Homo sapiens: one gene and its partners. The protein of the gene in region 1 purifies or fractionates together with the protein of each later gene. This does not show direct contact. Each region holds a gene or a part of one and is shown on either strand. Other genes may lie near its edges.

What was found.
Region 2: the proteins of STAM (region 1) and CLTCL1 purify together in Homo sapiens (affinity purification with mass spectrometry, with the first as the bait; one study listed by BioGRID). This does not show direct contact.
Region 3: the proteins of STAM (region 1) and THADA fractionate together in Homo sapiens (co-fractionation; one large-scale study listed by BioGRID). This does not show direct contact.

The regions. Positions count from the first base shown.
Region 1 is NC_000010.11:17,710,104-17,713,758, forward strand, and holds part of STAM (signal transducing adapter molecule 1), read left to right. Parts: intron 1-3,165; coding exon of another isoform or gene 3,166-3,277; exon of another isoform or gene 3,278-3,655. UniProt on the Homo sapiens protein: Involved in intracellular signal transduction mediated by cytokines and growth factors. Upon IL-2 and GM-CSL stimulation, it plays a role in signaling leading to DNA synthesis and MYC induction. May also play a role in T-cell development.
Region 2 is NC_000022.11:19,232,695-19,236,349, reverse strand, and holds part of CLTCL1 (clathrin heavy chain 2), read left to right. Parts: intron 1-480; coding exon 481-654; intron 655-1,643; coding exon 1,644-1,841; intron 1,842-2,727; coding exon 2,728-2,928; intron 2,929-3,031; coding exon 3,032-3,184; intron 3,185-3,655. UniProt on the Homo sapiens protein: Clathrin is the major protein of the polyhedral coat of coated pits and vesicles. Two different adapter protein complexes link the clathrin lattice either to the plasma membrane or to the trans-Golgi network.
Region 3 is NC_000002.12:43,233,153-43,236,151, reverse strand, and holds part of THADA (tRNA (32-2'-O)-methyltransferase regulator THADA), read left to right. Parts: intron 1-2,999. UniProt on the Homo sapiens protein: Together with methyltransferase FTSJ1, methylates the 2'-O-ribose of nucleotides at position 32 of the anticodon loop of substrate tRNAs.

The DNA of each region.
Region 1 (3,655 bases):
TCCTGACTTAATAGGACCCTGCAGCTATTTTAGTATTAGCCGGAACTGCCACTTTTCCCCTGCTAGTCCTCTGTTTGACTATGTCACATGCTGCTCTACCTTCCTTGTTACTAGAGATTACTTGAGACTCATTCTTCAAGGTCGGGGCCTTGGGAAATTATCCTTGTGAATGAGATAACCTGTTGGTAGGTGCTTTAACAGTGAAGTTCTGTAGCGCTGTGGTACCCTGCTGCTGTTCTCTGTGTGTGACTCTGCTTCTGCATTCGGGATGTGAAATCCCTGGCATAGGCCCAACCCTACCCATAGAGTGTAGCTATTAATGTCACCTCTCAAGGAACACATGTTTATTTCAACAGGTGTCTTTTGAAGAACATTTTCTTGAAATATTTAGCCCTCTCGTCCTGGCTCATTCCTGCATATTCTTTAGTTGTTAGCTTAGCTGCATTTTTACTGGGACATCTTCCTTGCTTTTCCACCTCTCAGCACTGTTCCTCCTGTGTGCTGTCAGAGGACTGTGTGTGTACTTCCGTTTCCTGGCTGGTAGTTGCCTTTTTACTTGTTTGTATCCCCACTGAAGACAGTATCTTGAGAGCTGGCACTGTCTTTCACCTCTATAGCCATCCTATGTAGCACACAGTTTTACACTGGCTAGGAACTCAGTAAATATTTTATGAATACATGTTTTAGTGTTAATGACAATTTCAAGTGCTATATTAGACCAGTTAGGTGTATTTTTTAAAAATTCCTTGCAAAGGCTTCACAAAGGCTTAGAGGCCATTTAAATATCTATATATAAAGGTACAATATGTAATATCTGTTTATCAATATATAAAAACAGATGTGTGTTTGTGTGTTTCAACGGGGAAATGAGGAATTGCTGGTAGAGCAAATGTAGGATGAGGAAATTGGAAGGAGCGAGGGCCAGGGTTAGAAATTTCCTTACTAGAGGTGTCCTGCGTATTTGACTCGAGCTTTCTAGCGGCAAATCAAGGTCAGTGAGGATTGTTGTTGTTTTTGGTAGGCAGGTTTTTTAGCACTCCTCAGTTTATATATATCTGAGAGGCTATCTCTTGTTACATAAAATTTTGGTGTTAAAGCTCACTGTTTTTCAGACTTCTGTCATCCTAGGACAGTCTTATTGTTAGTTGGGGAAGGTGTCACTGATGACGGTTTTCTAAAGCTACCTGTAGCGATGGTAGTATTATAAGGTGATAATAAGTGACAATTACTGTTAGTATTTTGAGACCACTGAAGCTTATGTATTTATTTGTCTCTGATTTTAGTTTACTACAGTCAGCATGTGCCAGGCACTGTGTTAGACACCTGAGAGTCTTCTTTAGCTTCAAGGTGCTTACTGAGTAGTAGGGGCAAACACATAAAAAAATATAATTTTATACAACATGATTTATAAATAAAGAAGATATATGCCTTGTACCTTAGGAGCCTCAGGGTTTGAGGAAGTTTTCCAAGAGGGTTATTCTTAGCCAGTAGAAAAAAAGTGAGGAAGATGTTCTGTCACGTCAGAGATGTGGTAGCCTGGAATGGCATGGTACCCATGGAGTGAGCAAAGATGGGAGGTGTGAAAGGCGTGGTATGTATCGGCATTCCAGCAGCACACTTACCAAGGGTTGAAAGCGTGTAGGGGAGCAGCGAGAGACATACTTGAAGACACTGCCAAGGTCGAAGAATGCTTGTTCTAGATACCATCTTAGGGATAATGAAAAAGTTCAGAAAGGGCTTTAAATGGCAGTAGCGTAGATGGATTCATAGGGGCAAGATTAGAAGCTGGGAGACCATGGATATTAGGCAAGAAATTATGAGTATTTGTTGGCAAGATACAGTGCTATTAATTGGAAAGAGTTATTTAGGAGATTAGCAAATAATTACACATTGGGTGACATGGTTGGGAGACAGCTCAGTGCAGAGATAAGAGAAAGAAGTATTGGTGAATTGCATGGTTTTGCCCCAGGCAACTGGGTGGACGGTGGAACTGTAAATTGAGAATGATTACAATAATGCTAACATTTAAGGGGTATTTAGTATGTTCCAAGCACTGTGCTGTATGCTTTACACAAAGTAACTTATTCCTCATAATAACCTGTGAAGTCGGTAAACTATTACCCCCATTTTATAGATGGGGAAGCTGAGACCTGGAGACAAAACGGAAGTCCCACTTAGCTAAGATTCTAAACCAGACATTCTGACTCCAGAACCCAGCGCATAGACTCTATATTACGGCAATATTATAGCCCATACCATTGTCAATAATAGTATGAAATTTGACATCTCCTAATCAACTTTATATCTCACACATATGGAGTGATGACAAATAATGCCTTAGGTCACCACATTAGTTGGAGAAATGTAGCATTAAATTACCGTCTCTTATAATAAATTACCATCAAATAATGAATTTGTGCCAAGTACAAGAGCACTGAATTTCCCAACAATAGATTTATAAATAACAATTGGAGGAAAGTTTAGAAGTAGGCAGTATTTTGAAAATTTGGCAGTTGCTTTTTATATTGCTTGTTTTACATTTTTAATACAAATGTAGGGGGAATTCTCAGCATCTTAGTACTTCTCTTCACATAGCTAACCTAGTGTCTTACAGTGGAAACGCATGTATTCCGTTGGAAACAGGAAGACAGGAAGTAGAGGCAGTGGATAAAGACAACCCTTTGAAGAATTTTTTTCTTTCTTTTTTTAATGGGAGCAGTGCACAAGTGCAGGGACTTGAGATGGGAGTACTGGCAGCGGAGCGGTGGGAGCGGTAGGGAAGCTCAGTACGTGAGGGGTGCAGCTGCAGAGAGTTGATCAGTGTGGTGTTGGAGCGTGTGCTTCCGTATTTTCAAGGAAATAAAAGAAATGAGGTTATGAGGCCTTCCCTTCCACTAGTCCTTTGGGACCGTTCTTGTCAAGAACCCTGGTGATGCCCATACTGCTAGACTCCCGGTCAGTTCACCATTCTCCTCCTCCTCCATTTGACAGTTCGTGATTCCCTCCTCTTTTCTGAAATGCTTTCTTCACTTGCTGGTGACCATTCTCTTTTCCCTTCTGCCTCACCGCCACTTCTTCTCAGCCTCATTTGCCTCTTGCCTCTTTATCTTCTGGACTTCAAGGTCCAGTGCACAGTAGATGGACTGCCTTTTTCTCTGTTTGCAGCCGCTCCCCAGGGGACCTCATGAAGCCCGGTGATTCTGAATGCCGTGGATCTGCCGAGGATTCCCAGATGCGTATTTCTCCTCCGTACTTCCCCACAGGACAGCAGGCTTGAATAGCTGATTGCCTATGCAGGACAACAGGCTTGAATAGCTGACTGCCTATGCATTCTCTTTGCTTGCCAGTTTTTTGGACATCAAACTTGACAGATCCAAGATTATTACTTTGATCTTCCCCACACCCCTCCCACCCCCGAGTCTACTATGGTCCCATCATAGTATTCTGAAAATCAGTGAATGGCCACTCTACCAGTTATTTCTACCAGTTTTTAGGTTCTAAACCTCAGGCATTCTGGACTCTTCTGTTCATTATCATATTTTGAAGGCATTATCTTCAAAATCTATCTAGACTCTGACCCTTTCTCCCATCTCCACCATTACTGCCGTGGCTCTTCTGCTGGTCGGCTCTCTCCTGGTGGATCGTAATAACCTGC
Region 2 (3,655 bases), on another chromosome or scaffold:
AACTCACAGCTTGCTTAAAGGGGTTCGATAAACTGTGAAAGGATCGCTCTACCTGAAAGATAAATGGAGTAGCCTGAGTTTATTGGACCTTTATTTGAGAGTGGTTGGACAAAATATTGTCTTTAAAACTAATTCTCAATCAAGTACAACTTAGAATCCATGTCTCAGGAAAGCATTGCTCCCACCAGTAATCTCTCGGCCTGAGAAACTGAAGAATCCTTGTATAGCTAGGTGTGGCAGCTCACACTTGTAGTCCCAGCTACATTGGAGGCTGAGATGGGAGGATCACCTGAGCCCAGAGGTCGGAAGTTGCAGTGAGCTATGGTGGCACCACTACACTCCAGCCTGGGTGACAGAGCACGACCCTATCTCAAAAAACAAACAAACAAACAAGAATCCTCTTTATCATTTGTGAGCTCTTTTTACCCGCATGGCTTCTCCTCCTTACTTTCCAACCTCTTGCTCTCTGTCTTCTTATAGATTGGAGCTAAACATGGTGTTATTTACTTGATCACAAAGTATGGCTATCTTCATCTGTACGACCTAGAGTCTGGCGTGTGCATCTGCATGAACCGTATTAGTGCTGACACAATATTTGTCACTGCTCCACACAAACCAACCTCTGGAATTATTGGTGTCAACAAAAAGGGACAGGTGTGTAACTCTGACATTTCATTTTCTACCTTTTCCATTCATTAGGGACTGGCGTTTAAACTTTCCCCCTTCTCTAGGAAAGCAGCTGGGTGTAGCTATTAATAGTTCCTGTTATTAAACTTAAACCCATGTCTCCTCCTTCATATTGACACTTCCTCTCTTCAGACAGCACCATTCCTAACACAGGATTGATTCCAGGAGGAGAGCAGCTCCTTCCTGCGTATAGAACAGCAGTTCTGATGCACATCATCTTTATACCATGCACACCCTAACTGGGGAGGGTTGAAAAAGCAGATACTATGGTATTTAAGTAACTTTTCTCAACCATAGTTGAAAAAGATAGTTAAAAGAAGAAACTCTTGGCTGGGCACAATAGTTTATGCCTGTAATCCCAACTGCATGGGAGGTTGAGGCAGGAGGATGGCTTGAGCCCAGGAGTTTGAGGCTGCAGTGAGCTGTGATCACACCATTGCACTCCAGCCTGGGTGAAACAGTGAGAGCCTGTCTCAGGGGAAAAAAAAAAAAAAGTCGGGAACAGTGGCTGATTCCTATAATCCCAGCACTTTGGAAGGCTGAGACAGGAGGATTGCTTGAGGCTAGGAGTTTGAATCCAGCCTGAGCGACATAGTAAGACCCTGTCTCTACAAAAATATTTTTTAAAAAAGAAAGAAACTCTGTACTTTAAAAATAAAAAGTTTAAGAAGAAAAATTGTCAGTTCCATCCACATAGGTCATTTTGCTGTAGCGCAGAACGCATCACACTTATCTGTGTGACTTTAATAACTACATAGACTCCTATGCTGTTCTGTTTTGTTACCATTTGGCTTTCGGCTGCTTTGCCTCCTTTCACTGTGAGGGCCACCATCACAGGTGTGCTCAACACTCGCCTGAGAATGTGGCTACCACTCCAGCATCGGAAGGGAACATGGCAGAGGGATGGTGGAGCACTCTTCTAGGCCGGGCTGCTCTCACTTGTTGTGTCCTTACAGGTACTGTCAGTTTGTGTTGAGGAAGATAACATTGTGAATTATGCAACCAACGTGCTTCAGAATCCAGACCTTGGTCTGCGTTTGGCCGTTCGTAGTAACCTGGCTGGGGCAGAGAAGTTGTTTGTGAGAAAATTCAATACCCTCTTTGCACAGGGCAGCTATGCTGAAGCCGCCAAAGTTGCAGCGTCTGCACCAAAGGTGATAAACCTTGAATACTGTTCAAGTGTTCTGAGTGTTAAGAACCAACCTTGAGAGGAAAATAAGTCATAAAAGCATTTCACTAGTGATATTGCAGTCTATTAGTGTTATGTTAGGAGTTTTTAGTTTAAAATTTTTGCACCAATGGCATAACAGTAAAGGAAGTAAACAAAAAACACACTCTTGCTGCATCGGCACTTCTTCACGCCTCCCACTTTGTGTGCATACGTACCTCTCACCCAACAGCTTAGATACAGTTTCACATTTCTGTAACTTAGCATTTTCCACTCTTGCTACCTGGTTGTCAAATATGCAACTGTACAATACATCAAGTGGTTGTTCCCTGTTTTATCTAGCGATAGTCCTACCCTGGACTTTCTCCACTCTTTTAGAATATAGCATTTCGGCATATGGCTTTTTCTTGGGTTTATTTCATTTGGATAAATTGTTCAGAGACTGGATCTGTTCCTGAGTAGATAAAGACTTTCAAGTTGCTTGTCCTTGAAAGAATTTTTCTTGTCTTTCAAGGGGTAGTTGTGAACAAACCATTTCTAGCCTTCATCTGTGAATTTGAGTATTTTGAATTAGAATATAATGATAGCAGAACTTCACTACTACAAGACTGATTGAGAGGCCGAATTCTTACTGCAGCATGCTGGGGGAGAAGTAAGACCCTAAGTGTGAAGCCACCTGGAGGACCTAGATTCCCCTATACTTATGGTTATTGTTGAAGATAGAAGCAGTTGCCTTGGTAGAGGACTTTTTGTCTATGACAGAGCAGTGTGGAATTTCCACTGGCAGATTTTTGTTTTTACATACAAGGAAGTTGAGTGAAGGGATCCCCTGTGATTACAACACAATGACCTATTTTTCCATTTATTATTAGGGAATCCTGCGTACCAGAGAGACGGTCCAGAAATTCCAGAGTATACCCGCTCAGTCTGGCCAGGCTTCTCCATTGCTGCAGTACTTCGGAATCCTGCTCGACCAGGGTCAGCTCAATAAACTTGAATCCTTAGAACTTTGCCATCTGGTTCTTCAGCAGGGGCGTAAGCAACTCCTAGAGAAGTGGCTGAAAGAAGATAAGGTAGAAACACTTGTGAGCTCGTAGCCCCCCCGCACAGCTTGAAAACTTGGTCCAGGCTCCCTACCTGCCTCCTAACTTTGCCTTGTCCCTTGGCATACCACAGCTGGAGTGCTCAGAGGAGCTCGGAGACTTGGTCAAAACCACTGACCCCATGCTCGCTCTGAGTGTGTACCTTCGGGCAAATGTGCCAAGCAAAGTGATCCAGTGTTTTGCAGAAACAGGCCAATTCCAGAAAATTGTGCTCTATGCCAAAAAGGTAACGTGTGTTGAACCACTGGCATCTCACAGATTACTCACGTGTGGTTGAGTGGTTGCTGATTTTAAAGTTTATAAAATACCCTTCTTTGTAAGTCCTCTGGTGTGAGAGTTGGCAATGTTGCTGTTAGGATCTTTATTCATAATGATCATATTTTATTCTCTTCAGCTTTTTATTATCCTTAGTTTTCCAGTCCTTCCATCTTCGTTTTATTTGGGAGCTTTATCTTGTTTTTTCTCTCCCTCTCTTCCTTCTGTATGTTAATTTGATATTTTGGCAGACTCCCAGATCTTATCCCTGTGTGCTTACTGGCAGGCTGTGTTTGCACACAGATCAGGAAACTTCTTTGTGGTCTGGGCTCTTTGTATAGTTAATTGTGCCTTCCATGTACATTAAATCAATTCATTTAATTGGATATTGTGTTTGGCAGAAGGTGGTACCTACACATGATAATGTTGCTGCTCATTTCTT
Region 3 (2,999 bases), on another chromosome or scaffold:
TGCCCCTTCCTAACCATGATTCATGGCAAAATGGTGCAAGATGGGCCAGGCGTGGTGGCTCACGCCTGTAATCCCAGCACTTTGGGAGGCCGAGGCAGGTGGATCACAAGGTCAGGAGATCGAGACCATCATGGCTAACACGGTGAAACCCCGTCTCTATTAAAAATTCAAAAAAAATTTAGCCGGGCGTGGTGGCGGGTGCCTGTAATCCCAGCTACTCGGGAGGCTGAGGCAGGAGAATGGCATGAACCCGGGAGACGGAGCTTGCAGTGAGCCGAGATCCCGCCACTGCACTCCAGCCTGGGCGACAGAGCGAGACTCTGTCTCAAAAAAAAAAAATGGTGCAGGATAGAGGCTACCTGTCCTGTCAGGTGGGGCTAGTGCAGCAGCCTAGCCTTCCTTGGTGGCATCTCTGGTCACCCCCATAGGTTCTTTATGGACTCAACAGGAATGTCACTTGAGCTGCAGATACTGATTTTGCTGATGGATGATGAAATTTTTTTCTTCCCTGTTGGGCTTTCAGTCCTTGCCTTAAGGAGACCATAAAAAAAGTGGTGGGAGGCCAGGTACAGTGGCTCATGGGTGTAATCCCAGCACTTTGGGAAGCCGAGGGGGCAGATCACTTGAGGTCAGGAGTTCGAGATCAGCCTGACTAACATGGAGAAACCCCGTCTCTACTAAAAATACAAAATTAGCCGGGTGTGGTGGCGCATGCCTGTAATCCCAGCTACTTGGGAGGCTGAGGCAGGAGAATCTCTTAAACCTGGGAAGCGGAGGTCGCGGTGAGCCGAGATGGTGCCACTGCACTCCAGCCTGGGCAACAAGAGCGAAACTCTGTCTCAAGACAAAACAACAACAACAAAAAAGTGATAAGCTGGGCACAGTGGTTCATGCCTGTAATCCCAGCGCATTGGAAGGCTGAGGCGGGTGAATCACTTGAGGTCAGGAGTTCAAGACTAGCCTGGCCAACATGGTGAAACCCCATCTCTACTAAAAATACAAAAATTAGCCAGCCATGGTGGCAGGAGCCTGTAATCCCAGTTACTCAGGAGGCCGAGGCAGGAGAATCGCTTGAACCCGGGAGGTGGAGGTTGCAGTGAGCTGAGATCACGCCACTGCACACAAGCCTGGGCAATACAGCAAGACTCAGTCTGAGAAAAAAAAAAAGAGTGATAAACCCACTGGGTGCAGCGGCTCATACCTGTAATCCCAGCACTTTGGAAGGCTGAGGTGGGTAGATCACTTGAGGTCAGGAGTTTGAGACCAGCCGGGCCAACATGGTGAAACCCAGTCTCTACAAAAAATACAAAAATTAGCTGGGCAAAAACAAAATTATCTGGGTGTGGTGGCACATGCCTATAGTCCCAGCTACTTGGGGGCTAAGGCAGGAGAATTGCTTGAACCCAGGAGGCGGAGGTTGCAGTGAGCCAAGATCACGCCACTGTACTCCAGCCTGGGCAACAGACTCTGTCTCAATCAATCAATAAAAGTTGAAGGGAAAAAAGAAAGAAAAAGGCCACTTAATTATCCCTTCTCTATACAGATTCTCAGCCAATTGAGAACTGCAGAAAGGAGTTAGGTAGAGGTAAAAATGGAGATTGTATTGTAGGTAGAGGCCCAGTCAACACATGGCTCAGACCCACAGCCAAAATGCACCTTCACCCCCTCCCCTTTTCTGTTTCCTGGTTTAAATCTGGGTTCTAGGCTGCAGAGCAAGCAGCATGGGGAACGGGGACACTAAAGGGCAAGTGTCCTGGGGGACTTATCTGGAGCTCTCAAGATGGTGAGATCAGTACTTTCACCTGCTTACATGCAACTAGGTGCTGCTGTGTGACCTCTGAATAGTCCTGGCCCTACTGCAGGGTCACTACCCCTGCTGACCCCACCATCAAAACCTCTGGATTGTTGATGCTGGGTCTCCAAATCTGCGCTTTGCATGCACCATGAAACTTGTTGCCAACTGTAATTTCTTGATGTGTGCAAGTGGGTTACATAATACCCAACCCATAGGATGCTAGAAGGACTGGGGAGACAGCATTTGATCAGGGCCTGGCACTCACTAGGCCCTCAGTGGGGCCATCCCAGTAAGCCTGGTTCAACACCCACGGGAACTAAGCCTGCTGTTGCAGATTCTCGGTCGTCTGCCTGTGTGCCGAGTAAGTCTTTCGGGGGCCAGATGGTCAGGGTAAGTCTGTGTGCTCAAGTTAGAGATGTGGATTTGGGAGTGATCAGGGCTCAATAGAAATGCATCATTGAAAGACAGGCCTTTCAATGTCAGTTGGTGCAAGATGGGCCTACAGAGGTCCATTGTGCAGTGGGCTTTCAGTCCCGTGTTTCAGACACCCTCCAGGTTTGGGATGGGAGGGGCAGAGTTGTTAGGGGAAGTGACAACACCCCTGAGCCTCCCTCCAAACCCATATTTAGGATTGTCTAAGGCCAAATGTTGAAATAAGCAATGGTTTCCCCAAGGCCCCCTGCTTCCTCTTTCTGCACCCTTCTATTCTTTCAGTGCCCTTCCTCCAAGCACCCAGGAAAACAAGGGTCCAAAAACAAAAAACTCCGAGACAGAGGGCAGCAAAATAGGAGCCAAATGCAGCCTACCACCTGCTTTTTACAGCCCATGAGCTATCAATGGTTTTTACATTTTTAATTGGTTGGGAAAAAATAATATTTTGTGACACATTAAATTCAAATTTCAGTGTCCATAAATAAAGTTTTATTGGAACACAGCCACAACCATTTGTTTACAGATTGTCCATGGCTGCTTTCAGCCGAGGTGAGGAGGTATAGGCTTGCAAAGTCTAAAATATTGACTCTCTGGCCCTTTAAGGAAAAGCTTGCCGATGCCCTGCTCTAGGATGTGTCTTGTGCCCAAGAGATCTGCTTTCCAAGGAAAGGGCAAACCAGTCAAATCCAGGCAGATGTGCAGAGGAGACACTGGACAGGGAAGCCTTCCTGATCCTTCTGGTGACACTGGAGGAGCAGAGGGGAGATAACTC